Regions from separate parts of the Homo sapiens genome. Here region 2 is linked to region 1. Evidence: fine-mapped expression QTL. A gene starts in region 1. The other region holds a variant in brackets. All regions are shown on one strand. Distances are from middle to middle.

What was found. PIP is the estimated chance that this variant, and not a neighbour inherited with it, causes the effect.
Region 2: its variant is the best candidate, but not a certain one, in a credible set for the expression of HTR2A in sigmoid colon (GTEx, PIP 0.56).

The regions. Positions count from the first base shown.
Region 1 is chr13:46,889,657-46,906,471 of GRCh38, reverse strand. It overlaps HTR2A (5-hydroxytryptamine receptor 2A), which reads left to right and starts at 9,419. Exons shown (of 4, transcript NM_000621.5): 1 at 9,419-9,798; 2 at 10,238-10,977; 3 at 13,882-14,082. The coding sequence starts at 10,566. RefSeq lists a silencer at 12,109-12,318.
Region 2 is chr13:47,323,227-47,340,041 of GRCh38, reverse strand. No RefSeq gene overlaps it. Among named protein-coding and RNA genes, the nearest start is that of HTR2A, 430 kb to the right of the region's middle. The variant G/A (reference allele first, on the strand shown) is at 9,266.

The DNA.
Region 1 (16,815 bases):
AAAATAAACACTGATGGAAATGGTAAAAGCAGGGAATCTCAAACTGTGGGAAGAAGATAGTATATGGGGATATGGTCACTTTTTTGACTTAAGAAGATTGTGGCTTCCAAAAATACTGCTACATTTTTAGCCCTTGAACATTTATATATTTGTGAAATTTTTCATAAATATCTTTATGAGAAAAATAAGAATTTTGTTTTACAACGAGACAAGTTTTAATAGAGTAACCGACTGGTAGTTCATAAGATATAAAGGTGTTAAAGTTGCCAATTTAAAAAACTCCATGTTAGATGTGAGGAAAACACTAATATATTGTTGGTGGGAATATAAATTAGCATATTATTTTAGACAGCTATTTGGTGGGATCTTTGAAATTTAGCACTTGCAATCCTAATAATTTATTTAACCTGTTCAAAGAAAGACCAGTTAAATAAATTATGTTATATTCATGAGAATTCTATTACCAATCTACACATTTTTAAGTCATATGTATTATATATATATAAAATACATATAATCATATATGTAAACACTTGTATATGCAAAGAAAATAAAGGATATAAAATATGAGGAGTATGAAAGATTCTTTCAACATGGTTTGACTTTTTTACACTATGCATTTTTATAGTTAAAAATGAAATAAAGAAAGATCAAATTTACAATATAGTATCAATGTTAAATGTTTTTTAGATCTCAGAATCAAACATTAGGATTGGAAGGGACCTACAAGGACATCAAAGCCAACTCATTCTATGAATATTTCTCCTCCAGAGATTCTAGAAATTTAGTGTCCAGTCTTCTTCAACCTTCTTGTTCTGACAATTCACAACCTCCTGGTGCCTAAGTATTTGTGGTTCTGGCAGGAAGATCCCAGAACCAAGTCACCCTATCATAGTCTTGTACTCTAGGGCCAATGGCCACCACGTGAGTATGAATGAAGAATTGTACTGGCCACCTAACCACTGCAGAATGCCAAGGAGCTAAGGTGATTCCATGACAAATCAACTTTCTTGAAAAGGGCAGAAAAGGCTGCAACAGAGACACTATGTGGCAGCAAGAAGCAATGGCAATGGAGGACTGATCAGTTACCCCTCCACATAAGGTTTGGTGTGGGACTGACCTCTTTGGTCAGAGACTCCAGAGTCCTTCATCAATCTGGGGGGAAGCGGGGATAGTAATGGGCTTCAAAAGGGAGATACTAGACATCGTGTTTTAAGGGCAGATAGGAAACCAAATGATTAATTTTTACAAATATTTATCTTTTTTACTCCAAAATTATGGAGCATGTCTTACCAGACATATTGAAATACAATGTACAACCTTATCCTGGACAACACCGTCAAGCATAATTTGAGATGGAAAATAGAACAGGAAGAGTAATTTCAACTAAATTGAGATAATGTTCTGATCCATTTCAGTGGTTTCTAGGACCCCATCTGAGATATTGGTAAAAGGCTCTGAGGGGATTAAGTGCCTAAGTCATCAATATCAGGTGGACAGAGGAACAATAATTTGGTTCTTAAAAGTATCCTCATGAAGGTGAGAACTTGAATTTTCTGATATACTGGGAAACTCCCAAAGAAGGCAGTATTTCATATTCATACTGATTGACCTGTGGCTGCTGAAGCCATTGGAATGCAGAGAAACCAAGAATCTGGTCTGCCCATTCTACCCTGAAGTCAAAATTCAAGACTTCCATTCTCCCAAACTGCCACTCATCACAAAGGAGGGAGAGCATCAACGTGAGTCAAGACCAGGGACACCATTAGGCCATATTGTTAACAGATCACTGAAAGCAGCAAAGAGGTTAAAAATCTATCCTCTGAGTAGAGAACTCTCATTATTTTCATTTTAGGTGTGTCTCTTTCCTCCCATAGGCCGCTTTTCTCATAGAGCTGGTTTGATAAAATTGGTCCAAAAGGCTCCTCTTTCCAGTGGGAAGTACCTGAACCATCAGTCTCTCCCCATCCCCCACAGCATGAAGTGGGAACTGGCATGGGCTCAGAGGACAGATCTAACAGGCTGCTAGCCAGGCCCTGACCAGGAAAACAGAACCCTTACAACCCAAATGGTCCCGTCTGGTTCACTACATGCCCTCGTTAAGAATAAGAGGTAAATGTACCTCGAATGTCCCTTCAGCCACAGACACCTGACAGTTGGTGCCAGAACAAAATTTGGGATCCTGGCCAAATATCTTATGATTCAACCAATAAGCACCTGCAAAAATGTGTGAGGGTAATTCTTTGGGACTAGCAAAAATATTTTTCCTCCAATAGTTCTACATTTTTCTTATAAGAAAGGTAATCATCTTGCTCTGTAATGAGAATCTAAGTGATAATATATTCATTTCTCCCAAAACCTAGGTTATGCCTGGTAGTAAATTAGATATTTTGGGAAACACACTTTTAGATCACTGACTGGCTGAAGTGCTATTTACCTCCAGAGTAAAAATGTAAAAAATGATCTCCCTGTGACCTCAAAAAAATTGTGATGCCTCGTGAAACAACCAAGTATGACTCAGACACCAGAGCCAATGTAGCTGAGTAAAAACACAACAAAAAATAGATAAGGATGTACCCTCTGCTAATAGAGAGTCATTATTTTACAGGCCTGGACAAAAGGCCTGTATTTTTATTTGGGAAAGGGTCCATTTCCTGCAGTGTCAGTGAAGCTGGTAAGTCATGTTGCTCTGATCCCCTGCCCAGAGGGATGGCAGGGTGACCCAGACTGGCTAATTTGAGTACTCTATTCCCCTAGCTATCATGTTCATTTCAGAGATGGGCACGTGGGTCTAACCAGGGTCTCGTCTGCAAGTGAAAAATACTCTACTGCAGAGTTAAATCCTGTTTCACAGCCTGCAATTATGTAAAATCAGAACTGCCAACCACCACCTTTTCCAGTTACATGAAAGAAGTCACCTATAGAGGAAGAGAATCAGGTCAGTGAAAGGGAAGCAGATTCTAGAGGTAGCAACATAGCCCTAATAAGGTCCTTTTAGCCACTAGATCCTGCCATGCCTTAAGTTAGTCCCACCTTGGACTTGTCAATTACTTGCACATCTCCCTTGATCCTTTTTGACTTGGATGTCTGCCATTTGTCTATAATAATTCTGAATAATACAACTGCCACACCTAACAAAAACAAGCAGTTTAAAAATTTTACCTTAAAGCCAGTCTGTCTCAGCCATGGTTAAAGGATAAGGTCATCTCTGACCCTCTTTTACCTGAACTTAATTTAAATATTTTTGAAATAATTATTTTATGTTTATAAACACATGTATACTTCAGAATATTTACAAAATTTGAAATCAGCATTGAAATAAAAAAAAAATCACAACTCCTTGACCCAGGAAATATCACTGTCAACATTTGAATGTACTTCCTTCTAGTTTAGAACCACATATCCATGGTTTTTTTAAGTTGAGAACATGGACTATAGAGCTCGTTCTTATTTAACATTAGCTTGTGCACGATTTCCCACATAATGAAATGCTCTTCAAGTATATGAATCTTAGCAGCTTCACTGTATTTCATTCGGTCGCTCTCCTCCTCGAAATATTTTCTTATCTTGGCTCCTAGAACACCACATTCTTCACTTTTCCTCCTTCCTCACCAACCCCACGGTCTCCTCTGCCACGTCTTTCTTATCCCCCTTACCTCTAACTGTTGAAGAAGCTCCAGATTCAGTCTTTAAACTGCTTCTTCCTCTACTCGGATATTTAGGGAATCACATTCTACCTCACAGCTTTCAACACCACGTATATACTGACAGTTTCCAAATTTATATCTGCATCCTGGACCTCTGTACTCTATTTCAGACTCTTATGCTCAGTGTCTTATAGACATAGTTATTTGTCTTACACAGACCTCAAGTTAGCATATCCAAGACTGATCTGATAATCACCCCAAGTAAGCTCCCACTGAAGCCTTGACTATTTCTGTTAAGGACGATGCCCCATTCTTCTAGTTGCTCAGATCTAAAACCTTCAGAGTGACGCAGCTCTCTTCTTTCTCTCACGTCCCATATCCTATCATTATCTGTCATCAAGTTCTGTTGGCTCTACCTTTAAAACATACGCAGAATCTGACCATTTCTCACAAACCCACTAGCACTACCCTAGTGAAAGCCACACCATCTCTCACCTGAAACTGATGTTCTTGCTTCCCTCCCCCTCCCCTCTTGAACCCATTCCATTGGGCTGTTATTCCAACTACTCCACTGGAACAGTTCTTATCAAGGCCACCAAAGACTACCATTTTGACAAATTTTACGGTGATTTCTCAGTCCTTATTATACTCAGCTGGTCAGAAGGCATTTCACCCAGTTGCATACTCATTCTTCTTGGCCATCTTTCTTTTCTTTTACTTTAGGATTACACTTTCTCTTTGTGTCTCTCCTAACTCACTGGGTGCCCCTTTTCATTCTACTTGGCAGGTTCCTCCACACTCTCTGACCTAAACTATTGCAGTAATCCATGGCTGAGTTCTCAGACCTCTTCCCTTCTTTATCTCCACTCACTCTCTTAGATGATTTCACCTAGTAGCATACCTTAAATACCAATATGCCATTGGCTATTTGATGTCTCTTCCCTAAACTCTGTACTCATCCATGCTACTGCCAACTATTTCTTGAATGAATGAAGGCAGGAACTATGCTCATCTTCATGGTTATACTCAGCACCTATAATAGTGCTTGACACAGCAGTCAATTATCAACTGTTAAATTAATGAATATTGTTCAACTCGGTGCCACTGTGAGAAAATTAAAAAGATAGATGACAGTCATTAGCTAATTTCAAGTAGTTTTTTTTTTTAGATACAAGCCAGTGCCATAATAGAAGGCAGTTCATGATATTGTTTTCTAAATATACATTGGTCCGATGGTCTGGCTTGTTCCAAACCTAAGTATCAGAGCACCAAAAGGAAGTGATAGATAAAATGTCAGTCAGTAAACCCTCTGTTAATATTTTTTTCCTCATTCTCAGGCCATTAGTAATGTTTGAGCAGCAGAAATCTTAGAGACATATTCTTAAATATCATAGAGTAAAAGAATTCTATGCTGCCAATTCATAACAAAATCAGGCATAATCAATTGAGTGAAGGTTAAGGTTGGCACTGTCTTGCAAAATTAAGCAGCTTAAAAAGGACAAACGTAACAAAGAAAAGGGACCTATTCTATGTTCCTTTGAACAAGAAAAAAAATAAATGTTGAAACCCCAAATGTCCAGGCCATTTCAGTTTCTCAGACTACAATCCATTAAATAATCATTTAATCACAGTGACATGGATGAACACACAGATACACTGTTGAGTGAAAGAAGCGTGACATAGAAGACTGCAGAAGATGCTACAGTCTTTGCCTCCACTAGGAAGGAGGGCCACATGTGTCCATTTAAGTTAAAGTCAAAAAAGGATAGGAGAGTACTTTCAAAAATGATGAAAATGGTGGATATCTTAATTTGGGTGATGGTTACATGGGTGTACATATTTGTCAAACTCAGTGAATTGTATACTTAAGAGCATTATGTTTTAATAAATTTAAAATATAACTCAATTTAGACAAAATTAAAGTGTCTTTCAATGAGTGTTCTGGATGAAGAGGAATGAAATAAATATAAACAAATTTCCTTACTGCAGGATCTCTTACAGCTTTTAATATGCAATTATGCACTGTATATTTCTAAGAGGAGACTATAAGATACAGTAATGTTCCAGACTTAATTGGTCAAGGAACCTTTTTTTCTCATATACATTGACATATGTAAGACACTACAGTTTCAGAAACCCAATAACTTTAGCCTGGAAAAAAATTCAAACAAAGGCTACAAATACCACTGAAGTCATTGAGAAAATATTAACATCTAATTTTAAGCAATCACTTTCTAGTGAATCTTCCAAAATGAACTAGTTATAAAATGTATTCCTATATATGGTCCAATTAAGAACTAGAGAAATTCTGCCCAAGATAATAAATATAGTTCTGGTATTGTTAACCTTAAATTCCTTCTGGCAGTAATTAGATAGCAAAGCCAGATGTATATTGAAGAATTCTAAGCTTATGGCAAGGAAGCATCATTCATCATCACATAGACAACACTTATCTGTTTTGTGTAAGACATCCAACTCACCCAGAGATGTTATTCAAGGCATTAATACACAGCTAAAGATGATAGGTCATAGGTTGAGCTCCCCAGGAAGCTGACTCTGTGACTGATGTGTGTGCAAGAGATTTGTGTGGGGCGAGCTCTCAGATCAACACCGGCAGGGGAGCAAGAGAAGCCAGACTGGACAAGGGGAGATATTTAACTTGGATTTGACACAACAAAGGCCTCAGTGAATCCCATAGAAGCACTGGAACCAAAGTTCTTCAGCCATCAGGCAAGAGGGCCAGCCCTTTATATCCTCACAATGGACCAGTCTTTGCATGCTGGCTGCCACAGAGAAGGGGCATGACCACTGGCAAGCTGGCTTCCTTGGCTGAGGGGAGTGTTCACAGAAAGAGTGGAGAGCCAGCCACCAATCCTTCCAGCAGCAGGGAGCCCGAGTCTCAGCCCTGAAGCAGAAGCTGGGCGAGGCATCACGGTGCGCACTACAGCAGCCAACACACACTCGTCTCACCAAACTCACAGGGGCATCTGCCCAGCAAGAAACTATTCCTACCTAATCTAACCCTCATGCTATTAACCTAGAAGCTCTGTTTAAGAATCAGGAGCCTAGATTATGCCCCTACTGCTTTGTCCATAACAAGTATTCATAAAATTGCAATAAAAACTAGAAATAATCTTAGATGGTAGCCAAAAAAATATTTCCCAGTGTAAACCACATAATAAGAAACACTGATTAGTTTTGGCATGACTAGAAGCCTAGCTGTTCTTCATGAGAAATAATGGACTGAGATCATCAGAATTCTCTAAGAGCTATAACAAGAACATCTATAAAATTTAACCTCAGAAAACTTTTGAATAACTTCCTGACACTGGAGTATTTTTTATATTACATTTCCCTCTGCTATCTTTAATAAAATTAAATTGGTATCCCAATAAACAAAGTAACAAGAAAAAATGAGAGGTTCTAAGTTTCTCCCTGGTTCTCCTTTTTAATAATCAATTCATCTTAATTTATGCTAATAACAATTCAGTCAGAACACATCTGTTGAGGACCTTCCATTATGAGATACCATGCTTAGATACCACATGTGAGGTTTATGAATTGCATCTGGGTGGATAATATAATAGTATAAGATAGATGTAATATAGATTACATCTATATTAAGGGTATGGAAATGAAGTTCAACATCTAATAGAGAAGACAGACATTTACACAGATGTCATGCATTCATTCAACAAACATACTTAAGCACTATGCGCCCAGCTGTTAACAAGATAGACACAGTTCCTGCCTTTATGAGGCTTACATGAGACATGATGTGTTAAAAATAGAAGGCTGCAGAAGGTGCTATAGTCTTTGCCTCCACTGGGAAGGAGGGCTACAGAAAGCTTAGGAACAGTAAACTTAGTAAGAATAATAGCAACTAACCTTTATTGAGTGCTTAAAATGTGCCAGGCAAATATGTAAATTTATTTGGCTTTCACGTCAATCCTGAGGTCTTTTTATTATTAATGTTCCCTACTTGCGGATGAGGAGACTAAAACACAGAGATTAGGTAGCTTAATCACGCTTACAGATGTGGTGAGTGGTAGGCCTGGGATCCAGAGCTGCTCTGGAACTAAGCACGAATTTGCCAGATGGACACACACAAAAAAGGAATGGTAAGAGCACTCCGGGCACAGGGAAGTACAAGTACAGAGACATAAAAATGGTCAGAAACATGTAAGTTCAGTCTGCATACAGGCTGACTGGGAGAGTAACCAGAGTCCAGGCCTGCAAAGTGGGGCAAGCAGGGTACAGGTAGATGAAGAAAAGTGTTATGTGCCCCACAAGGAAGGGACTGCAGGAGTGTAGGCATGGGAGTGATGCCAATTGTGTCATTAATATCAGTAAGAATATCAATAGGAATGAAAGTGGCTGACATTACTTGAGAACCTCCTATAAGCCAGACATGGGCCAAATACTTACACACATTATCTCAGTTTAGCTTCACTACAATCTTATGAGGAAGGTATTATCCCATTTTACAAGTGAGAAGACTGAGCTTTAAAGGGAGCAACTAGATGAGGCGAGGTTCTACTGTTTATGAGTGATAGAGCTAGGATCCAAAACCAAGGAACTCTAAGGTCTGTGTTCTCCGCTGCCTGCTCGCCAGCGTGCATATTTAACGTGGAGGGGTAGGAGGGTGGCAGGCATGGCAGTGAGGGGGGCACTAAGGCACCCACCCAGGAAATAGGTGGCTAGATCTCGACCACAGGGTGCCAGCTGCAGGCTGCAGGAGAGGACATGTGAGAAACACGCATACAGAGGTAGCACCGGAGACGAAGTGGGATCTGGCAGCGAGAATGAAGGAAGAGTCGCGGATAACAGCAGCTGTCTGAAGAGGTGGTGATTCCATCATGCAAGCCAATGGGTAGGAACAAGCACTGAGAGCCGGGCAGGGGGATGCGGAGTGAGGGAAGATGCTGAGGTCAAGGTCTCCCAGGCTACCATGGAAGGAGCCAATGGGCAGCTAGAGATTTAGGTCTGGAACTGAGAGAAATAATCAGCTATGAAGGTACAGACTTGGCCACAAACATATTGAAGGCATGAGAGTGGTTGAATTTGTCCAGGGAGAATGTGAAGAACAGAAGGTGATAGAACTGTAGCAAAACCCAACTATTGAGGAAAATATTTTCATGCCTGCAAAAAGAGAGAGATCGAACTGCCTCCTTTAGAAACCTACTTGGGAAAGGGCTTTCTTTACAAGTAAGGCAAGTTGTCATTACTGGTGGGGGAAAAAAATTGGTACTGCGAAACCAACTTATTTCCTACCACATGTGAGGTTTTGAATAATATCTGGGTGGCATATTTCTGCTGAAGAAAATAAGCCAGTTCAATGGTGTATCTATTAAATAAAAATAGTGCTAATAGTTTATCAGAGTTATCACCACAGACGTGCCTAGCCACCCTGAGCCTATGTGGCCAATGTCAGTAATTCCACTCTGGACACAAACACTGTTGGCTTTGGATGGAAGTGCCGGACACTCACAGCACTCCGAGGACATACTGTTTTCTAGCCTTATTTATGTTCTCTCTTCACCCTTCAGCCTAAAAAATTACCACAGTGCCACTTACCTACCTTAATGGGAATCTGCACAAAAGGCCATTTCTCCAGTTTCTCTCAAAAGCAAAGGAAAACTTCCCAATATTAATATGTAGCAAAAAGAGGGAGAAGAAAAAGCCTGTTTGGTCCGCCCTCCTGGCTGTTGCTACCTTGCAGCTTATGACATACACATAGAGGGAGGTCTGATGAAATGAACGAGACAGTCAGAGAGCTACTCCATTCCCGTGGAAACCAGGAGTCCCTTGGTGCAGACAGCTCTTCCTACTTTCCCATGCAGTTCTTTTGTGCGACTTTGAGGGGCTCGTGAATGATTTCTAAATGTGTGCCTGCTGAGGCGAGCCGCACAGGGAGGGAGGAACCCAGCCGAGCCGTGCCAGAGGAAGCCAACAGGATCCTAGCAGTGCGGGAGCTGGCTCAGCTCTTGCATGCAGTTTTTGAAGTCAGCAAAACAGAAACCAAATTACTATCATATTATGCTGGTGGAAGATCAAGAAGAGGGGACTCTACACCAGTTTAATTACTGTGAGAGATGCAGCGAGTCACAGAATAACAAATGTATCTCATGTGTGGACCCTGAAGACAAATGTAAGTTCTCATGCCGCTATATTTTATTGCTGTGTAATTTTCTTTCCGGTTTGAAATCATGCTTGGCCAACATGTAATCATTTCAATGAGAATTTCCAGGGAGGAAAGTTGTCTGCTAATCTTTACTTAAGACTTTTTTGTTTTCCTTTTATTAGCTAAGCAACATTATAGGAGCTGAAATTCCTGACAGCAGCTGTGGCAATTCAGCTTAAGAATGGCTGAGAACTGTAACCCAAAGTACATCCAATTACTATGGGATTAACACTGGATGTATTTTTAATTGACTTTCTTAATGTAGAATGTGTACATCCCCACTGTTTCTGATTGCATGCTATTTTAATAATACTGTTGCTAAACTAGTACCATCGGCATAACCAACAAAATGAGATATAGTTAAACAAGAGTCCCAGTAGTTATAAAACTTTTCTTCTTTGTCCAGGACATTTATCTTCCCGAGCGCTCAAAAAAAACCCTGCAACCTCTATGCTAAAAGTTCATTCTGCTTTTTTGTCCTCGGTTTGGTGAGAAAATAATAAAACCAAACAGTGGACTCTCCTAAAATTGTGAATGAAGAAAACTTACAGCCACCACAGTTCAGTTCTTTAACTATCATTGTAATAATGGAAGACAAAAATCCAGCCCCGGGAGAACAGCATGTACACCAGCCTCAGTGTTACAGAGTGTGGGTACATCAAGGTGAATGGTGAGCAGAAACTATAACCTGTTAGTCCTTCTACACCTCATCTGCTACAAGTTCTGGCTTAGACATGGATATTCTTTGTGAAGAAAATACTTCTTTGAGCTCAACTACGAACTCCCTAATGCAATTAAATGATGACACCAGGCTCTACAGTAATGACTTTAACTCCGGAGAAGCTAACACTTCTGATGCATTTAACTGGACAGTCGACTCTGAAAATCGAACCAACCTTTCCTGTGAAGGGTGCCTCTCACCGTCGTGTCTCTCCTTACTTCATCTCCAGGAAAAAAACTGGTCTGCTTTACTGACAGCCGTAGTGATTATTCTAACTATTGCTGGAAACATACTCGTCATCATGGCAGTGTCCCTAGAGAAAAAGCTGCAGAATGCCACCAACTATTTCCTGATGTCACTTGCCATAGCTGATATGCTGCTGGGTTTCCTTGTCATGCCCGTGTCCATGTTAACCATCCTGTATGGTGAGTGGCATTAGTTTCCCAGCTATATTCGCACTGGTAATAAAGAGCATGTGCATGCCACCAGCAGATGAGATGGGGCTCAGGGGGCAAACAAACTATAAATAGAAGTCTTTGTTTATAGACTAGAGCCTACTATGTTACTTATATTTTACTCTTAAAATGGGATTTCACATAAAAATCAGACAGTCTATGACCTGTGATCACTGGAGAGTTTTGTGCTTCAAAACGCGTACATCCTGTGTAAAAATGATCATTGGAGAGTTTTGTGCTTCAAAACATGTACATTTAATGTAGAAATTTTTATAAATTACCCCATACAGTCATAAACCAATAACTTACCCATCATTCTGAATCTACTTGATTTTTGCTTCTTTATATTCCCAACCAATATTCCAGCCTTCAGGACAGAACAGTTTTAATCTTTGTCACACAGTTTTCAGCACTTTTAATGGAGTGATAAAGCCTTCCCAATTACTTTGGAACATTTGCAGAGAGAACATTAGTGGTGCAATAGGTTTTATGTTAAAATATGCAGAACCTCAATTAGAATAAATGAATTACTCCAGTTTTAATTGTTCCCTGCCCAGAGAAGCTAATTTGGAAATGTGCCTTTGAATTATATCCTCAACTCTTTGAAAATGCATATGCATAAACTCCTCCAGTCTGGTTTGGAGGAGGGTGGGAAACAAATGGGAAGGGATTAATCTTGCTTTCTTCTCAACAGAGTTTGAAACAGTCAGACCTCTCAGCAAGGGACCAGAATGTGATATTCTTTCCAAATTATGAGTAATACAGCCAGATACCTCCTTAAAGGAGAGACTATTGTGACTGCTGACACAGGCACAAGCAGCAGTCACTCAGAGCTTAGAGACAGGTTATGATAGCTATCTTTAAAGGGAAATTTTCTGGTCAAGTCTTAGGGGCTAAGATTAAAAAACATCAACCCAGCCCTAGAGAATGTGAAGGAGGAAGGCGGTACGCAAGGGCGAGCAGGCGCCAGTTTGCACAAAGCTAGTAACACTCATTCCAAGTCCAGCCTTCACTTGACCATTTAAATGCCACACCGGAATGATTTCATTTAATTTGCCTGCCCTTTCCCCGGCATCCCGGGGAAGATTCTCGCTTCCCAAACCCCCTCCCCTAGGGGGCAAACTCCAGTGGGGGTAGGAGGAGTGACAGAGCGGGACCCAAAACAGAGGCTGGAGGGTGGGGTGACCCCCGGCGTCACCCGCTTGGGGAGCAAGGGCGCCCCCTGGCGGCCGCCGCTCTGAGAGCAGCCCGTTCCCTCCGGAGCCCCGCCCCTCCCTAGGCTGCTCCTCCAGCCTCCCCCAGCCCACGGGGCGTGGGGCATGGGGCTTCTCCCACAAGGAAATGCCCCCTCCTTATCCCGCATCAGAAACACGGACTGAGGCCTGGGCCGCCTCCTGGCAGAGAAACCCCTCCGAGGGCCGACATCTGTTCCGAACAGACAGAGCGTGGCTTCCCCCATAAGGCGCTGCAAAGGAAAAGGCTTTCCTTTCGGCTCAAGCTCTTTGCAAATAATACATGTGAATGGCTGTAAATTAGGCTTGTACCTACGCCCTTTACTTGTCTAAATATCCCTTGTGGCATTTTGGTAGAGAGTGTACGTTTGCGTTGGAGTTTGTTCGGCTTTGTGGGTCTGTAATAAGAAAAGTGGACTTTAAAATTTTCCTTCTTACATGCAGGCAGATCTAACTCCGCTGCTTATACTGTGATCAAAACTAATTAAGGTTTACATAACTGCTTAATCCCCCTCCAAAACACAAAACCAGGACACTTTGTTTATGTCCATAAAGCACACTCTAACCTTCCTCATATAGCAGGTGACCTGCAGTATCTCTTACATTGGAATTGTCTGGGGAGCTTGGAAAAAGCTTTGCAAACGCTTTGACATTTGATGTCCACCTCAGCCCACCCTCCAAACATGATTTAATTGGGCTGGGTTTGGCATGGGCATCAGGACCTTCTCTAAAGCTCTCCAGCTGATACTGATGTGCAGCCAGGGGTGAGAGCCACTACCCTAAAGCAGCTATTCACAAAGCGTGGTCCCTGGACCAGCAGCATCAGCATCACCCGGGAGCTTGCTAATTCAGATGCAAATTCTACAGCCTGCTCCCTACTAACTGCATCAGAACCTCTGGACGGAGGTCCAGCAGTGTGTGTTTTAAGAGGTGTGGCAGAGTCTGATGCTCACTAAAGTTTGAGAAATGCCTCCCTAAAACAAAGCTCAGAGCAAGGACACCTTTCTTTATTTTTCTTCACCCTTGTCTTCAGCTCTCCCTACACATACCCCAAATTTGAGTTTGGCACCCAAAGCATTATTAGATCATTATTTTTCATTTTTACAAACAGACATATTCACAATCTGAATTTTTAGTCATTTAGTCATTTGCACTAATGCAATTTATTGCCATCACTGTATGGGACTGGATGGTTATAATAATGACTAAGAGGTGAGACTAACCTTAGGGAAATACAATCCAGAGAAATATGTGACTAAATCCTGACAGTACAGTGTGAGAGGTGCTCCAGAAGAGGAGCCAAAACACAAATTTTGACATAAGCCATTAACAAAAGAAATGTTTTGCCAGGCGTAAGGGGGAAGAAAGAGAACCCCCAAATAGAGACCATCCAAGCTTACCGTGCCACACTCACATAACTCCAGACACTAGAAATTTTCAAACCCTGCATTCATCAGCCAGTGCTAGCTTATCATAGTTAAGTACAGTTGCCAGTGGGCTTTTTTCAAATACTAAAAATATATTGTGTTGCCCTTTGCCACCACCTGTGCCTGTCCCAGAGCTGGAAATTGTCATAGGATAGGGATACATGTGCTCCAGGAGGCACAGGGTTGCTCACTGACACCAACCTTCTGCCTCATAGGGTACCGGTGGCCTCTGCCGAGCAAGCTTTGTGCAGTCTGGATTTACCTGGACGTGCTCTTCTCCACGGCCTCCATCATGCACCTCTGCGCCATCTCGCTGGACCGCTACGTCGCCATCCAGAATCCCATCCACCACAGCCGCTTCAACTCCAGAACTAAGGCATTTCTGAAAATCATTGCTGTTTGGACCATATCAGTAGGTAAGTGGCAACATATTTCAGAGTCTCATTTGAAATGACAGTTCGTGCTTTCTGAAAAGACTTGTTCCATTTTGTTGTACTGAAACCTGACATCCTCAATCTACTGTTTTGGGTGGTGCAAGATATGTTACAACATCATAATTATCAGATTCGCTTCAGGAAAGAAAAATCTGTTTATGTCACTGGCTGACAACATGAATTTGTATTGCTTTGCACAGGCAAAACTATAAACAGTAGAGCCAAAAAGTCAGAAATAACTGTGCTGTTTTCCCTATTTCTTACTTTCAAGTCCACGACTCTAATTCTTGGGTTTCCCAAAGACCTCAACTTTTATAATCACTGAACTTATGATCAACGTAAGGATGCAGACCACTTTGCTAGAGAACATAAAGCCTCTGGGCTCTAGAGAAAGGTACCATGTGCTGTAGCTTGGAGGGAAAAGGTGGGCCAGAGGAAAGTGCCAGGATTTGCTTTGGGGCAAGGCTGCTTTTCAGTCCGACCCAGTGTCCCTATTGACCTTCCTCCTTTTATGATACCACACACCAAAGGATTTCAACTTGCTTCTGTTAGGTTGATTACATATATTCATCTCTCGCCAGTATTGATCTTCTGTCACACACCTAATAGTCAGAAAAGCCCAGGTAATGGAAGCTAAGGGGGCGGGTCTCAGGCAGTGAAGTGAATTGTACCTGTCAACCTCAGCAGCTTGGTTGGTAACCAAAGATTCTCTGACATTCATTTTAAAATCCAAAAGCTTAGCAGGCAGGAGTGTTGCACCTGTTTATGGCCACGCCAGTGCCAGCATCCGCTAATATGAGAGACTATGAGATTCCACCGCTTGAAATCAAGGGCTTGAGTGAGCTTATCCACAGCATTGGAATAATAGTACCAATAATAAGAGCCAACACAATAATACTATATCTTGTGTATTTTAGTTCCCATTGTTTTCTTTGCTGCTAGCAATGGGAACTATTATGCAATTTGAAGAGTAAGTAGCTCCATCTTATAGATGAGGAAAAACTGGGATTCAAAAAGCAAAATGAGCTGTGCAAAGCCCCACAGCCAGTAAGTAGCACAACAAGGATTTTATTGAATTCTGATGGGAACATCTGATGGAAACACTAACAAATCACACTTGTGTCACTTTCAAATGTTTAAAAAGTCTTACCTACTTCCTATTTTAAATTTCCCATTACCGTTTGAGATAGAAGATTCTATGGTGCTTATTTGATAAATGAGGAAACCAGAATACAGAGGTATTGTGGCTTACTGGATCATGTCTCCAACTTGCAGCAGGACTAGGACTCTAAACTTCCAGCACCATGCCCTGTTCTTTCTGTACCTTCCTTAGGAAACAGTTTTTGCTCCTAGAAAATGCTTGTAGTTTCTGGGACTGTGCAAGTTGGACTCATTCTACTAAGAGCAAGAAAGTGAAGGGCCAGTAACCACTCAATCCCAATTACACATAAAATGCCCCTGGGAACATTCTGATTTAATTGCCTAGGGTGAGGCCAGGTGATTCTAAGGGGCAGTCAGAGTTGAAGACCACTGAGACAGGTTTTCAGGGTGGTCAGCGTGATAAGTAGGAGAATCAAGATTAATGCAGAGGGAGCAAATGAAGCTATTTATTTTTACCCTGATACACTGTCCATAGTTTTACCCCAATATACTGTGCCATTGGTGAGACAAATGCTGGGAAGGTCAACCATCTTTTCCTCAGCCACACTGACTCCCCCATCTCATTCAGGCTTCATGATAACACCAGTAGTAAGGTAACAGTTTCTGAGCACTGAGTACGGACCCAGTAGTATACAAAGCCCCTTAAAGAAAATCAGCTTCAGAGAACTCAGTTGCACAGGATGATATCACTTATAATCAGGAGTCAATATGGGTCAATCTGAGTCCAAAGCCCATGCTCTTTCCACTGCACAAAAGATAGCCAGAAAGAGCCAGAGGCAGACTATCACCACAGGAGGCAGGCAGGCTGGAATGATTGTGGTGGTGCCAGGCAGGGATCATTCATCCATCCACTTGGCCAGTCTTTTTGAGATGAAGTTTCGCTCTTGTTGCCCAGGCTGGAGTGCAATGGTGCTATCTTGGCTCACCGCAACCTCCGCCTCCCGCATTCAAGCTATTCTCCTGCCTCAGCCTCCTGAGTAGCTGGGATTACAGGCATGTGCCACCACGCCCGGCTAATTTTGCATTTTTAGTAGAGACAAGGTTTCTCCATGTTGGTCAGGCTAGTCTCGAACTCCCGACCTCAGGTGATCCCCCTACCTTGGCCTCCCAAAGTGCTGGGATTACAGTCATGAGCCACTGCCCCCACATTTGACCAGTCTTGTAATGTGCATCTACTATGTGTTTGGCACTGTATAGACCAAGATGAAAAAGATATGCATTCAAAGATCTCTCACAGTAAGGTAGGAGAAGACAAGGAAACAAAAGAATAAAAAAAAGTTACATAGAATCTATACTAGAAGTCTGAGGTGTGTGCCCTGAGGAGGGGGCAAGCGGAAAATGTAAAAAGGAAAAAGGCAGATCTAATGAAGGACCTACAGAGACTCAGCACAAATATTCTCTTGAGTTTTCTTCTAGTGTTTCTGTTTTGATTATTTTGCTTTGGGTTTAGTTTTTTGTTTGCTTTGTGTGTGGTTTCTTTTAATTTAGATCCTTAGTCTAGCTGGAATTTTAAAATATGATCTAACTTGTTTGCTTCTACTAGTAACTAAAGCT
Region 2 (16,815 bases), 430 kb before region 1:
TGATCCACCCACCTTGGCCTCCCAAAGTGCTGGGATTACAGGCATGAGCCACCGTGCCTGGCCCCTGTTCATTTTTAAAATTCTTTTTTCTTTGTCTTTGTCAGATTGGGTTAATTTGAAAGCCTTGTCTTTGAGCACTAAAGTTTTTTCTTCTACTTGTTTGATTCAATTGCTGAGACTTTTCAGTGCATTTGTAACTGCCCAGTGGGTTCACCTTGCCCGCTGCCTAGACAGAACCAATTTATCAAGACAGGGGAACTGCCATGGAGAAAGAGTAACTCATGCTGTGTGGGAGACCAGAGTCTTCTTTTTACTCAGATCAGTCTCCCAGAACGCTGGGGATCAGTGTTTTTAAAGATAATTTGGTGCGTAGCGTCTTGGAAGGTGAGGAGTACTGATTGGTCAGGTTGTAGATGGAATCATGGGGGGTCCAAGTGAAGTTTTCTTGCTGTCTTTTGTCCCTGGGTGGGATGGCAGAACGGTTGAGCCAGATTACCAGTCTGGGTTGTGTCAGCTGATCCACTGAGTGCAGGGTCTGAAAAATATCTCAAGCACTGATCTTAGGTTTTACAGTAGTGTTGTTATCCCCAAGAGCAATTTGGGGAGGTTCAGACTATTGGAGCCAAAGGCTGCAAGACCCCTAAATTGTAATTTCTAACCTTGTAGCTAATTTGTTAGTCCTGCAAAGTCAGACTGGTCCCCAGGCAAGAAGGGGGTCTTTTGAGGAAAGGGCTGTTATCAATTTTGTTTCAGAGTCAAAGCGTGAACTGAATTCCTTCCCAAAGTTAGTTTGGCCTATGCCCAGGAATAAATAAGGACAGCTTAAAGATTAAAAGCAAGACAGAGTTGGTTAGGTCTGATTTCTTTCATTGTCATTATTTCCTCAGTTATAATTTTGCAAAGGCGATTTCACATTTTGCAATTCTCTAAGTGCATCCTTCATTTCCAGAGGTAGTGATTGTTTTTTATTTATGCTATTTCACTGAAGATCTTCTTCATATCTTGTGTCATATTTTTGATTTCTTTAAGTTGGACTTCACATTTCTCTGGTGCCTCCTTCATTGGCTTAATGGTTGACCTTTTGAATTCTTTTTCTGGCAATTCTGAGGTTTGGTCTTGGTTTGGATCTGTTGCTGGTGAGCTAGTGTGATCTTCTGGGGGCATTAAAGCACCTTGTTTTGTCATATTACCAGAATTGTTTTTCTGGTCCCTTCTCATTTGGGTAGACTATGTCAGAAGGAAGATATGCAGCTCAAAGGATGCTGTTCAGATTCTTTTTTCCAGTGGGGTGCTCCATTGATGTGGTGCTCTCCCCTTTCCCCTTGGGATGGGACTTCCTGAGAGTCAAAATGCAGTGATTATTTTTCCTCTCCTGGATTTAGCCACTCAGCAGAGCTACCAGGCTCCAGGCTGGTACTGGGGAGTGTCTGCAGAGTCCTGTGATGTGATCTCTCTTCAGGTCTCTCAGCCGTGGATACCAGCACCTGCTCTGGTGGAGGTAGCAGGGGAGTGAAGTGGACTCTGTGAGGGTCCTTGGTTGTACTTTTCTTAGTGTATTGGTTTTGTGTTGGTTGGCTTCCAGGCAGGAGGTGGCGCTTTGAAAGGCACATCAGCTGCAGTAGCATAGGGAGGATCAGGCAGTAGGTAGGGCCATAGAGCATCCAAGAGATTTTGTCCTTTGTCTTTGGCTACCAGGGCTGGTAGGGAAAGACCATCAGGTGGGGGCAGGGTTAGGCCTGTTTGAACTCAGACTCTCCTTGGGTGAGGCTTGCTGCAGCTGCTGTGGGGGATGGGAGTGTGCTTCCCAGGCCAATGGACTTATGTTTCCAGAGGGATTATGGCCACCTCTGCTGCATCACACAGCTTACCAGGGAAGTGGGGGAAAGCCAGGAGCCACAGGCCTCACGCAGCTCCCATGCAGTCCACAGCCTGAAAGGCTGGTCTCACTCCCACCATGCCCTCCACAACAGCACCAAGTTTATTTCCAGGCAGCCTTTGAGCTCGGCTGAGAACTTGTCTCAGGCTACAAGCCTCCCAGCTGAGAAAGCAAGCTGACTCACAGTTCCTTAGCTGTCCCACAGAGACTGCAGCAGCAATCCACCTCCTTCAAAGGGTCTGTGAATTCTCACGGCTTTCCTGGTATGTTCCTACTGTAGTTCTTGGAGCGAAAGTTCGTGATGTGGTTCTCCACATGCTGCTCTGTCTGTCTTAGTGGGAGTTGCAAGTTAGTCCTGCTTCCTCGCCACCTCCTATCCCAAATTATTTTTCAAGATGGTTCTACCATTTACATTCCAACCAGCAAAATATGAGAGTTCCAGTTCTACATCCTTGCCAAAATTTGATATGGTCATTTTAAAAAATGTTAGCCAGTCTTGCACATAGAAACTGATATTTCATGTTTTTAATTTGTATTTACCTTAGGATTAATAATATAAAGCTTATGATTATGTTCTTATTGACTACCTTTATCATCTTTTGAGAAAAGTCTATTCAAGTCTTTCAAATATTGTTTTATTATTTATTAAATCAAATATTATTTATTACTTTGGAGAAGTTGTCTATATATTCTGGATATGAGTTGTTTTGTCATATACAAGTACATCTTTTGCAGCTTAGTTGTTTGCATTTTCAGTTTTGTAACAATATTTTTAAATACAAAAAACTTTTAATTTGAGAAAGTCCATTATATCATTTGTTTCTCTTAAGCTTAATGCCTGTTGGGTCACTGGATATCTTTCCTATGCCAAGGTTGTCAAAATATTTACTATATTTTTTCTCCAAAATGTTTGATGCTTTTAGCATTTATATTTATGGTCTATAATCTATCTTGAGTTAATTTTCATATACATCATAGATATGAGGTAGACATCAAAGTTTATCTGTGTCTATGTGAATAGGCAGTTCTCCCAAGACCACTTATTGAAAAGATTACCCTTTCAATATTGAAATGCCATGGTACTGTTCCAAATAGCATTTTTGTGTCTATTTTAGGGCTGTCTACTCTGTTCCATCGATCACTATATAGTTATATTTATGCTAATACCATAGTTCCTGGATTTCTGCATCTTTTCAATGAGTCTTCAAATCAAATGTAATAAGTCTTCCAACTCTGTTGTTCTTTCTCAAAATTGTTTTGGCTATTCTAGCCATTTGCATTGCATATGAATTTTGAGATCAGTGTTTCAATTTTGATTGGAATGCTGTTGAATCTATAGACCAATTTGAGGAGAACTGATATCTTAGCACTATTGAGTCTCCCAGTCTCTTTGTATGGCATATCTCTAGATTTTATAAACATATTCTTTGTATTATATAGAATTTGTTTATCATTTAAAACTGAAGACTAAAGCTTGTGTATATTTATGGTGTATAACATGATGTTTTGATATATGTATACATTTTGGAAAGGTTAAATCAATCTATTTAACATATGCATCACTTCACAGTTATTTTGTTGTGAGAAAACTGAAAATCTCTTTCAGCAATTTTCAAGTATACAGTATATTATTATCATCTATAGCCACCGTAAGGTAGATCTTTTAAGCTTATTTCTACTGTCTAACTGAAACGTTGTGCCTTTTGTCAACTTATACCTAATTTCCCTACCCCCAGCCTCTGGTAACTACTATTCTACTCTTTGCTTCTGTGAATTCAGTTTTTTTTATTCCATATATAAGTCAGACCATGTGATATTTGTCAGTCTGTGCCTGGCTTATTTCGCTTATCTTAATGTCCTCTAGGTTAATTTATGTTGTTGTAATTGATTGCATTTTCTTCTTTTTAAAGGATGAATAGTATTCCATTCTGTATATAAAGTATATCATATTTTCTTTATTCATCTCTTGGACACTAGATTTATTCTTTAACTTGGCTATTGTGAATAATGCTGCAATGAACATGGGAGTACATGTATTTTGCCAGCATATAGATTTCATTTTCTTTGGATATATAAAAAGTAGTAGTATTGCTGAATTATAGTAGTTTCATTTTTAATTTTTTGAGAAAACCTCATGCAGTTTTATTTATTAGTATGACTATACTAACATACATTCTCACTTACAATGTACAAGGGTTCCTTTTTCTCCAAATCTTCACCAACCCTAATACTTTTGTCTGATAATAGCCATTTTAACTGGTGTAATGTAATAGCTCATTGTGGTTGTAATTTGCATTTCTACAATGATTTATGATGTTGAGCATTTTTTCATATACCTATTGGCCATTGGTATATCTTCTTTTGATGTCTATTCAAGTCCTTTGCTCATTTAAAAAAAATCAGTTGTTTTCTTACTATTGAATTGAAATCCTTATACAACATACTTTAGATATTAATCCCTTATCAGATGTGTGGTTTGCAGGTATTTTCTCTCCCTACGTTTTCTGATTAGTTGTATATGAGGAGTTTAGTGATGGGAAAGGAGGCCGGATAGAAAAGGGGGAAGAATTATTAATGGTTGGAAATGTGTAAAGTGAGAAGGAAGAGAAACGAGGTGGGTAAGGATCTTCTTAAAATCTTGGCATTTTTAGATGAGAACTAAGTATATAGAGGGAAAACGTACAAAGAAATAGGAAAAGGGGGCCGGGCACGGTGGCTCACGCCTGTAATCCCAGCACTTTGGGAGGCTGAGGCGGGTGGATCACGAGGTCAGGAGATCGAGACCATCCTGGCTAACATGGTGAAACCCCGTCTCTACTAAAAATACAAAAAATTAGCCGGGAGTCGTGGCGGGCACCTGTAGTCCCAGCTATTCGGGAGGCTGAGGCAGGAGAATGGGGTGAACACAGGAGGCGGAGCTTGCAGTGAGCCGAGATCGCGCCACTGCACTCCAGCCTGAGCGACAGAGTGAGACTACGTCTCAAAAAAAAAAAAAGAAAGAAATAGGAAAAGGGATGTTTGCTTCATTTTGGGCAGGAGCCACAGCCGAAGGCACCACTCAGTTTGTTGGGATACATTTTGGGGTCTTGACAACAAACTGATGTGACAACAAACAGAAATCTCTGAGCTTCTCACATTGTGGAAAAAGCAAACAAGACTCTGAAAACACTGTTAAGTTGGGACATTGGGGCAGCAGAAAAGAGTGAAAGAGACAGAGAGAATAGGAGGTAGAGAGATTTCACTCTTGAGGTGACAATGAAACATCCAGTTGTAGATAATTATGTAAAGTGGAACCAAAATGCAAGATTTCAAATTGGAAGAATAAGTTTGTGAATTATGTGGGAGCAGCTCATGTAAAAAACCATAGACATTGGAGTCAGGTAGACCCAGTTTAAAACCCTATCTCTGTCATTTTTTAAGTGCATGATACTAAGCATGTTTCTTAATTTTTAAAAATACTATAATCTATAAAATGGGTGCATTATGCATCATGGTGATGTTATAAAGGTTAACTACATCTATTATGGCACCTGACAATAATGGTTTAGTCTATTTCTCTTCTAGAAGATCAAAGTTTTGGTCAGACTGCATTGTGTTGCTTTAAAACTTCAGAAGCCATTTGGCATTTTGTCCCAGAACCACATGTTCCCTCATCTTCAAAATAAAATAGGAAGCAGAGTTAACACTGTTGAGTCACTGTATCAGTCAGGATTCTGGCAGAAAATAGAGATTTTAATGAAGGAATAGTTACAGAAGTATAAGCAGGGGTAAAGGACAAACAGCAGATGTTGAGTCACCAGTGATGAACAACTCCAGAAACCCATTACCAGTCCTGAGGCTGATGGAGTAGAGGGAAGAAATAGTGTTCCTGTAGCCCAGTGGGAGCCAGAGCCACGGGGGAGGGTTTGCCGGCAGATGCTGCTCGTAAAGAGACACATGTGCTAAAGCTGGGTAAGAGGCTAGGGGAGATACTCAAAACCTTTTCTCCTCCCAACTTCTGATCTTCTGGCAGTATTTTTCTTTCATTGAAATAATTTGGAAGCCAGAGAGAAAGGAGTTCAGATGCTACAGATGGTCAGAATCAGCCCCTGGTGAGAAAAGAATGCATCCAAGGAGGAAACAAATGTGCACATAACCAGTGCATTCACTATGGCAAAATGTACCAGGGATGAGAGACTAGCTACCGGTGAAGATCACTTATGCATCCCATAGCGACAGTCTCACTCTCACATTTGAGCGCTGCGAATACTGAGAAATTAGACTTGATGAGACTAACTTCATCCACCAACCCTAGGATGCCGTACCTCGGCGGCTGTGAATTTGCATTTCTCTGATGATTCGTGATGCTGAGCATTTTTTTCTTATACCTTTTGGCCATTTGTGTGTCTTCTTTTGAGAAAAATTTGCAAATGCAAAACATCTGCATCTCACCCAAGCTACTCGTCTGATGGAAACGTGGGCCTAAATCCCTTAAGCTTTCCTCACCTGGATTTCTCGCTAATTCTCGAAATGAATGATATAACTCCTGGTATCACTTTCAAAAGATTCCTCTTTACTCCTGTCTATATTCTCAGCAGACGTGAAATCCTTTCTACACATCTCGCAGGGTCAGAAGGCTGGAATGATTCCTGTCTCTTCTCTGAGCCAGAGTTTCCATCACTGGGTATTGAGACACATGTATTTGCTATTGTCACTTCCTGGCTACTTCCACTCATTCTTTAGGCCTAGCTTTGACATCACCTTCTCTAGATGGGTAACATGGCCCTTCAGTTTACTCTCCAGGTACCCTATACTTCCCTGCTTATCACTTATTACCCAGATTTGATATTGTCTAATTTCATGTTGGTATCCACTCCCCAGGTGCTAAGCATTTAAGGAGTAAGACGGTGACTCTCCAGGACTTTGCCCAGTGCATGACACTTAGCCAGGACTTGGTAAATATTTATGGAACTAGTGAATGCAGAAATATGTGAATGAATTAAAGTCATAATGTAACTGTGCTTGCTTGATGGAGGTGCATATGAACACATCTATGTGGCATCTTTATGACCTTGTACTTGGTACAAATCTTTTGAGCCTCGTTTTTAAACTTAAGGCTATTTGTGATCTTTTAAGAGTCTGTTAAGTACTAAAATGAGATATCCATGTTTTATGAAAAATAACAAATATGACCATACTTAATGATTTCTTTTGAGAAGAAAGAGTATCCCCACCCAAATCTCATGTTGAAATGTAATCCCCAGTGTTGGAGGTGGGGCCTGGTGGGAAATGATTGGATCAAGGGGGTAGATTTCCCCCATGGAACTATCCTCGCAATAGTGAGTGAGTGCTCGCAAGATTTAGTTTTTTAGTTTTTATTTTATTTTATTTATTTATTTATTTATTTATTTTATTTTTTTGAGGCGGAGTCTCGCTCTGTCGCCCAGGCTGGAGTGCAGTGGCGCGATCTCGGCTCACTGGGGTTTCACCGTGTTAGCCAGGATGGTCTCAATCTCCTGACCTGGTGATCTGCCCATCTTGGCCTCCCAAAGTGCTGGGATTACAAGCGTGAGCCACTGCGCCTGGCCGAGATTTAGTTTTTTAAAAGTGTATAGTACCTTCCCTCTCTCTCTCTTGCCCCTCCTCTGGCCTGCTTCCACTTTTGCCATTTGATAGGCCTGCCTCTCCTTCGCCTTCCCCCATGATTGTAAGTTTCCTGAGGCCTTCCCAGAAGCAGAAGTTGCCATGCTTCCTGTAAAGCCTGTAGAACATGAGCCAATGTAACCTTTTTTTGGTATATAAATTATCCAGTCTTAGCTATTTCTTTATAGCAATGTGAGAATGAACTAATACGGAATGGAATGTTTCTTTTTCAGAGAACAGGGAGGTGGCCTATAAGTGTCACAGTTAATGTGTCACATATTGCTTTTCCGTCCACCACTGAGGATTAGTTTCTGTGACGGTAAAGCACTTTTGGTCTCCATTTTACCTTTGAGTTTCCCAACACCTGTATTATTGAGTTTTGAAGAACACATATTATGATGCCTTATTAGGGATTTTAAAAAGTCTAATACTTCAGATCACTTTGATTTTTATAAACAATTATACTGTGTAGTACTAAAAGTAAGAAGAGAGCACAAGGAATATAGAGGGCCAAGGATCAGCATGGGCAGTCCACAGAAGTAGGGGTCTCTGTGGAGCCTAAAGTGAAGAGCAAGAGATGGTGTGGTTTGAAGTTAAGAGCAGGGACCTGGAGCAGTTAGACATGGGTTTGAAGGTCTAAGAGACCCAGGACTTTTCTGCGCTGTGTGATCTTGAGCAAACCTCTTAATTTCTCTTAACCTATAGCTCTTCACCTGTAAAATGGAAATTATAATTCTCAAAAATAGTGTGAGTAATAAATGAGGTGTGAAATGTAAAGGATCCAGTGCATAGTAAGTACTCAACAAATGGTAACCAGTGCTGTTATTATAGGCACAATATAGAATCACAGGTGATAAGAAATTATTATAAATTGTTTAGTTAATCCTGATGAATTAAATAACATGTCCCTAATATCAGTTTTATCATTGTTAGGGTTTATGGGCTGATTTCTTCTAGTAATAATAGTGCTTTACATACACTAACAATGAAGTCTGCAATAACATTTTTCAAAGCACCATTAAATGAATTACCTCATTTTGTTCTCATTCCAGTGTACAAAGCAAACAAAATGTTCCAAAAGCCCTCCTGTACTGAACCAATTGCCTGGATCAACTTTTTTGGGGGGAGTATATATTAGAACTAGATCTGGTTCCTTTCAAATGCTCAAAACAATTTTCTAATTTTCTGTTGACCTTAGAAAACAACTGCCAGTGACTTGATAAACTAATTAGTAAATTGCATAGCTTCCTTGGATGAATACCACTCAGATGTGGCAATCTGTATCTCTGAATATTTTCAAAGTATTCTATCTCTAGCATCAAGCTATTTCAACAGGCTTTAATTACTTTGCTGTCTTCCCAAAATCTTATTTTCTTTTGCTTAGGACAGATTTTGAAAAAAGGAGTTCCACATAAATTAATGAAACAGGCTAAGAAAAAAATGTTATTTGCCTATAATTAGTGAGAGTTTATTATGCAAGAGAAGTGTCACCAACAATGGCAGGAGCCAATAAAAGCATGTCAGCAGATAAATAGTCCTCTCTTCCCATGAAATCTGTTCAGACCATCCATCAATACACAGCACAGCGTTCCTATTCAGTCTAGCAGGTACCACATTATTTAATTTTGTTGCCCTGCTGTATGAAGACAAGTTTGGACCTTTTCTGATGGTAATAAATTTAATGTGGACAGAAACTGTGTTTCATAATGTGAATGAAAAAATAAATCACAAACAAAATAAATATTGAGGGACTGCTCTGTGCTAGGT[G/A]CTCCAAGACATTCAGGATGAATAAGGCAGAATCCTTTCTTCAGGGAACTTACTTTCTAACTGCAAAAAAAAATCACATACAAAATATAATACAAAGAATGAGTTAAAAAACATAAAAATGAGATGTAGTTAATATTTACAATGTGTCAGGCATTGTTTCAAGTAATCTACATGTCCTGTCTCGGGCAATCTTGTGACAATCCTTTGAGAAAAGCACTGTTTCTATCTTTATTTTACAAATGGGGAAACTGAGGCATAGAGCAGTTAAGTAACTTGCTCAAGGCTACTGGGCTATTAAGTGCTCAACTCACGTTTGAAATTCAGACAGACCCCACATCCATGTTTTTAAGCAATATTGAAAAGTAGAGCCAAAATAGTGAATGAGAATTTCTTGAATTCATTCCAGAGACTAGAGAAATTATTTTCAGATCTATCTCAGCATCCTTGCCTGTAAAATGTGAATAGCTATGATGCCTATTCATAAGAAAGTTATGAGATTAACGAAGATAATGCCTGCAAAGTACTTCACGTCGAGCTGAAGTTTAGACTCTAGCCACATGGGATCCCCCAACCACAGAGTGGATATCAACTTCCCAGCACCAGCTGAGCAGGCGTAACCCACTGGGAGCACTGCACCCACTATCCCTTGGCACTGAGTGTGCTAGAACCCCGCTGGACATACACGGATTTCAGGGGTAGTGAAGGGAGTCCACACTGTACCAGGCTGGTGTCCAGGAGAGCACTCAATATATTAGCTATCATTGATGTGCCAACTCCAATCCACTATTTGAGATGGTTTATAGACACCTGAGTTCAAAATGTGGCTCTAAAGACTACTGGAAGCTTTTTTCACTTCTGAGCTGGAAGGTTTCAAGGAGAAACTTTAAAAGTGTCATTGAGATTTTTATAACAAATGTAATTGCCCTAGACACATATTTTCGAATGAAAACAAAACAAAACAAATTTCATAAAGCTTTTTAACAAAGCAGGATATAAATAAAAGTGAATAGATGAATTTATTTCTCCTTGGGGAATAATAATTACCCCTAGGTATAGGATGGAATGGCAGGAGACATGTTAAAAACTTCAAACTTCTAAAATCACTCACGTCACTTTTCCTAAGTAGATCCTATTCTGTTCAGTAGGACACTATTAAATTGTTAACCTAGGGGAAATGTAATCAGTGCATCCTTAAATTATTATATCAGAGATTCACAAACTTTAACACAAGGATTTAAAATAATCTTAAATTTTAGGAAGGAAATCAAGTTGAAGCTGTGAATGTATGACAGGAGTAATTATTTGAAGAACTCAAGAAAAAATTAAAATTCTCTGACATAAAAATCTAGAAGGCACCAGATGTTTAAGAAAATTAAAAAAATAAAGAAATAATGTCGTTCTAAATATTCTGCCAGCTGGTGTCCTACAATTACCCAAAAGTGTAGCCTTTCCTCAAAAGGACTAGAAATGTGATAGTCCATTCACACCATGATCCCTATATCTGTAATTTGCATTTAGTGGTATTTTTAGTTTCTTAGTATCAAACTAAAAGTGCAGAATCAGCTCTCAAATCTGACAGTCTCCTTCACACAGCAACATAGTCACACACACACACATTTCTTTCAAAAGAGACAATTTATTAAGATTAAATTATATATATCAAAATGTTATTACATTTATCTTATTGTATCATCTAAAAGAATTGATACACTGGGTAATTTCAGAATTAATATTTTTGGTGATACTGTTAATGAATGAAATAGGCTGAATAATGACATCCCCCCAAAAAATATATGTATATATGTCCACGTTCTAATCCCTGGAACCTGTGAAATATATTACATCTCAAAAGGAACAGTGCAGATGTGATTAAAATAAGTATCTTGAGATGGCATGATTACCCTGGATTACTCAGGTGGGTTCCTTATTATAGGAAGGCAGAAGGGTCAGAAAGGGAAGCAGGAGAGAAAGCAATGTGATAAAGCCAGCAGACATCAGAGACAGAGAATTGCAAGGTGCTGTGATGCTCCCTCCTTTGAAGAAGGAAAAGGCCCTGAACAAGCAATGTAGGTGGTCTCCAGAAGCTGAAACAGGAAAGAAAATAGATTGTCCTCTAGTGCCTCTTGAAGGAACCAGCCCTGCTGACACCTTGGCATTAGCCCAGTGAAATGGATTTTGGACTTCTGATCTCTAAAACTGTAAGGTATAAATTTGTGACATTTCAGTCCTCTGTTTCACAGTAACTTGTTACAGCAGCTACAGGAAACTACTACAATTACTATTACTGTGTTTTGGGTTTTTGTTTTTTTGTTTTTTGTTTTTTTCCCAGAGCAGAGCAGAGGACAAGCAGCAAGCTGACTGAACGTACACTTCTCCTTTGTTGGATCCTACTGAACTGTCAAATACAATCTAAAAGTATGAGATGAAGTCCAGTTTATCATTTTATTTCTTTTATGGCTTATGTTTGTGGTGTCATATCAGGAACATGTTGCTTAACTCAAAGTCATAAAGATTTTCTTCTAAAAAATTTTGTAAATTTATCCACCATATTTAGGTCTATGATCCCCTTTGGGGTACTCTTTTTGTGCATGGTGTGAGGTAAGGATCTACTTTAATCTTTTCATTTGTGAATACCTAATTATCCTAGCAGTATTTGCAGAAGAGATGATTTATTCCCTCAATGAATCCCTTTGGCACTTTTGCAAAAAACCAGTTGACCACAGAGATAAGGGCTTATTTCTGAACTTCTATTCTTCTCTGTCGATTTATATGTCTACTCTTGTGCCAGCACTGTACTGTTTTAAATACTGTAGTTTAGAGTAAGTTTTGAAATTGGGAAGTGAAAGTCCTCTAACTTTATTGTTCTTTTAAAAAATTGTTTTATCTATTCTGGATCCTTTGCATCCTATATAAAATGTGGGATTTACTTCTTCATTTCTGTTGGCATTTTGATAGGCTTTGTGTTGAATCAGTTTAGGGAGAATTTCTCCTCTTTCTTAAACCTGGCTTGCCCAAGCTTTAGATAGCTATACATGTACTTAGTCATCTGATTAATATGTGGCCCCTCTTGGGTCTTATTATTGGTAGGACAGAGATGTGAAATCTTTTCCTGGAAGAAAGTCCTATCTTTCAATTACTGATTCAGCCTGCTTCAATCACGTACCTATTTGGCCGGAATAGCTACCCATTTTGCCTTCTGCATTTCCAGCTGGTACCTTTCCCATGTCCACTCAGCATTGTTCAATCTGCAATGGCCCCATTCCCACTCAGCCATTCTCTGGTTTGGCCTCAGGCCTCATTCACTTTCAGATTCCCCACTCTGCTTTCCTCTCCCAATAGAACGGTGTGGTTCCAAGTCCTGTGACCCAGAATCTCTTTATTATAATGTCAGCATTTGTCTCTCCCTGGTCCTATTCAAAGGACAAATGGGGCAATTGTGAAACAGTGGATCATATTTCAGAAGATGTTATGAAGGCTTTGGTTCCTAACCATATCACATACTAACTATGTAATCATGTGCTGGTTATTAACTCCCTGCATCAGCCCCTCATCCCTAAAATGGGGATATTGATAATTTTCCCATCAACCTTAACTTCCCATCAACCTTTGCTTGAAGATCAAAGTAGGTAACATATAAGAAAGTTCCTTAAAAGCAGAAACATACATTAGTATAAAATGCTATATTCATTATGCATTTGAAACTTAACATATATATTTTTCTCCTCAATTAGATTATATGATATCAGTATATTTTGTGGTATTTAATATTATAAAGTGCTTAGGATACCTGTAAATAGCTTAGTTGAAATAATAAAAATCAATGAGGCAGTTAGAAATAGTATTTGGACCTGGGACAGGATTATATAACTTGTGTGAGCACAGGCGTGCATGTGTGTGTGTGTGTGTGTGTGTGTGTGTGTGGCAGAGAGAGAAATAAAGAGACAGAGATAGACAGAGACACAGAGAGAGAAACAGAGAGAGATTACTTTTGACTAACATTGTAAGGACTCTGATGTCTGTGGTCCTATGGAGCAAATGTCAGTAGAGTCTTGAGAATGACCATACAAAACTGAAGCTTGTTTGTGAAGAGAACCACATATTGAAACTCACGTCAGTGGTACATAGTTAGACATGGTTATGTACCATCAACCCCACAAAAGAAGTACAGTTTTCATAGAAATAGAAAAGAGTAGATCTTTGCCTTCACTTCATAGTTCTTTAGAAACACAGAGGGTATAGAAAGAAACATGAAAGCTATAGCAAGACAACAGTTCTAACCAAAATCTCAGAACCCATCTCTACTTCGGTTTAACTCATTACCATAATTAAATCTTAATTTTTAAGATTTCATCAAAGATGACACCCAACGGTAGGTGCATGCCACCATATGCAGTTAATTCTTCTGAAATTTCTCAGGCCTTTCCTTGTTCTGTCTCATCCTTTCCTCATATCCTGACACATGTGTTCTCCAGAGTTCTGGATGTCAGGGCTCATTTCCCACTTCTGCCTCCAAGACATTGTTCAGTAAGTGCTGCCTGACTCATCCTTCTGTGCTTTGACACCCCACATGCAGCTTGGTCTGCATTAAATGCTTATTGAATTCATTCCTGGACAATCCTCTCTTCCTTATCTACACTAAACGTTTACTGTGTTGAGTTGACTCCTGGACAGTCCTCTCTTCCTAATCTCTTTTCTTCCAACAGAACTAAGTTTTCATTCATTCATTCACTATATGCATGCTTACTCCATGCAAACATGGTGTAGGGGATTAAAACTAAATTAATTAAATATATGACAATGTATTAATTAAAATCTATATAGCACAATTTACCAACTGACATTCTGGCATTGTAAACTGTAAGCCACTGTTGTTCATCACCTTTGCTGGAATAAAGCAATCTCTTGTAAAGAAGAGTTGTGATCTTAAATTTCAAAGAGCTCACTTGGTCTTGGCACTATGGTTGGGAGAAAGATAGAGTACATGTTCCTTCTACTCAGCCTAACTCACATTCCAATAGTACTTACTACGTAAGGTTGTTATGGGGAATGAATACATACATGCATGTAAAGTGCTTTAAACAGTTCCTACTGAGTGGTAAATGGTATATAAGGGTTTGTTGTTATTATTATTCTTATTTAAATAGGAAATTAGTTTGTATGTTGCAGTATATGTTCTTGTGCCTTCCTCATGTGATCAGTTACCTATTTAGAGGGCAGGTTCTTAGAGAACAGATGCTTTGTTTTTTGAATGGAGTGTGTGTGTGTACTCATGTCGTATCATACAGGAGTGTTAAGAAAAAAAAGGTAAAAGCCTACTCCTCCTTAATGAACCTTCTGTCTTGCCTCTTCATTGAAATAATACCAACTATCTTATAGTGTAGATGCAATGAAATCTGTAGGTACAAATTTAAATTCTTTCCACCAAACCAAGCCTGAAACATGGAAACTAAGGCTTCCAACAAGCAGAGTAACCAAGCACATTGTAAGTACACATTTCCTTTGATCTTTGCAGGTATCTCACTTCTGATAGTCTTCTAAGAAGCTTTTCCAAATCAAAGAAAAATGGGCTTAAAGAAGATGGCCCTGTTTGCCCAGAATGCTCAGGGATGACATATTGAAAAACATTGGCTTGAGAATTGGAGGAAGATAATTCTTATACCATGACTACTAGGCTTTTAGAATAAAAACATAACTAGAACTGTCTCAAACGGATTATACTGAGTAGAATCAATACTCCCACCTTCACCCTCCCTGAAAATAAAAAGGCTACGAAAAGGGTTTTCGTTCTCTAGATTCAGACGTCCCTACTGCCCTATTCATGAAGATTTCTCTCTGAAAAGCACAGAGGTGCTGAAAGAAAAGCCAACTTTTATTCCCACCTTGTCCATTACACTAAAGGGCAAAAATCAGGTTTTTTTTTTTTTTTCTCCAGGTTGTAGCAATGAAAGAGCAAGAGGTGAGAAGGTTCAATTCTCTCCCTCCCTTTACAAATTAGATCTTCCTTCATGGCATAACCTTGACATTGCTCTCAATCCTGAATTTCTTCTTTTTGAGCATGGAAATCATATAATTGACATTAACTAAAAGAAAACATGGTTTTAGCATATAAGTAACTCATATGGGAGACAATGTCCTTTGAAAATTCTTTTAGTCTTTTAATTTCATTTAAAGAACTCTAGTATGTTGCTTTCAAACACAATATCTAGACCTGTTTCTCAGTTACTTGCTTAACCACAATTATTTTAAAAATAAAAAAGATAAAACAATGATTTGTATGGCTGAAGGGAAAACCTTCCATTATTCAATACTAAGAAATCCTATTTTATTTCAAGTATTTAAAAAATTAAAATGGTTACAAAGAACATTGAGATGTGGTCAAGAAACTAAACAGGAGCAATTTATAATTGAAGAATGAAACACTTTGAATATTAAATAATGAAGGGAGATGAAATCAGATGCAAAAAATGCAAAATACTTAAAACCTTTCAATATGACAGTATGTCTTCCCCAGAGAAAAGTATGAATATTAAAGCTTGGCTGAATTTCTTTCTTTCAGTTTTTGATATAAAATACAAAATTCTTTCAATTGACAGAAATAATATCTGTATTTAGAGTCTGTCATGAAGAATATGTTAAATAGCCTAGGTTTTAAGGATAGACTTTATCTGTAGACTCCTGGATTCATTCTCAGGCTTCAATATCCGTTCCATTTCCTGCAATGTCTCACCTTCTGCTTTCTACTTGTCTCTCTTCCATTGCTCAAACTTGGAATCACTGTGCAATTACACTTATCATCTTTATGTTTGACTTCTAATATAAGTGTTGCTTAATGTTAAGGCTGGTACATTATGGACCTTTTGGAGGGTAATAACAGGTAGAGGGGTTATATTTTTGTCCCAATCAAAGAACCACAATGTAGTATCAGCAAATTTCTCTCCTTCTCCTTGGTTATTAGTTTTTTTCAAAGCGATGAAGATGGCTATAGTTATTGCTCTCTGTTGATTTCTCTTGGCCCACAGATGTATAGCATGGAAGCAGGAACTGTCTAAGGAAGGAAGATGTGCATGGAGAAGGATGTGTGGCACCAGCTTTCCTGGCCACTGAGTGCCTTGTGCTGATGGGCAGTTTAACCCAGGAGATAGAGAGGGCAAATATAAGCCCTGGAGGGTTATGCCCTCATGGAAATTACCATATAGCTGGGGATCCTAAAATTGAAACCACTAACTCCAATATGAAAGAGAATGGAAAGCAGTACCACATGAGAAGATTAAAGGGTGGACAAACATGGGAAAGAGAGCTTAAATATGACTGGATGACTTGGAAAGGCTTTACAAAGATGCCATTTAGCTTTAAGTTGGAATATGGATACAATTTTGATATGTAGAGAAGGAAAGGTAGAACATTCTGCCTGAGAAAAACAACAGCAAAGAAAACAGGAAATGTACGGTGGGTTCTAGAAGAGCAGTCAGGCTACTTGGCTGGAGGACATGGAGGAAGGAGACTGGAGCATATCAAGGACAAGGTGGTGTGGGTTTTGAGTGCCATTCAGA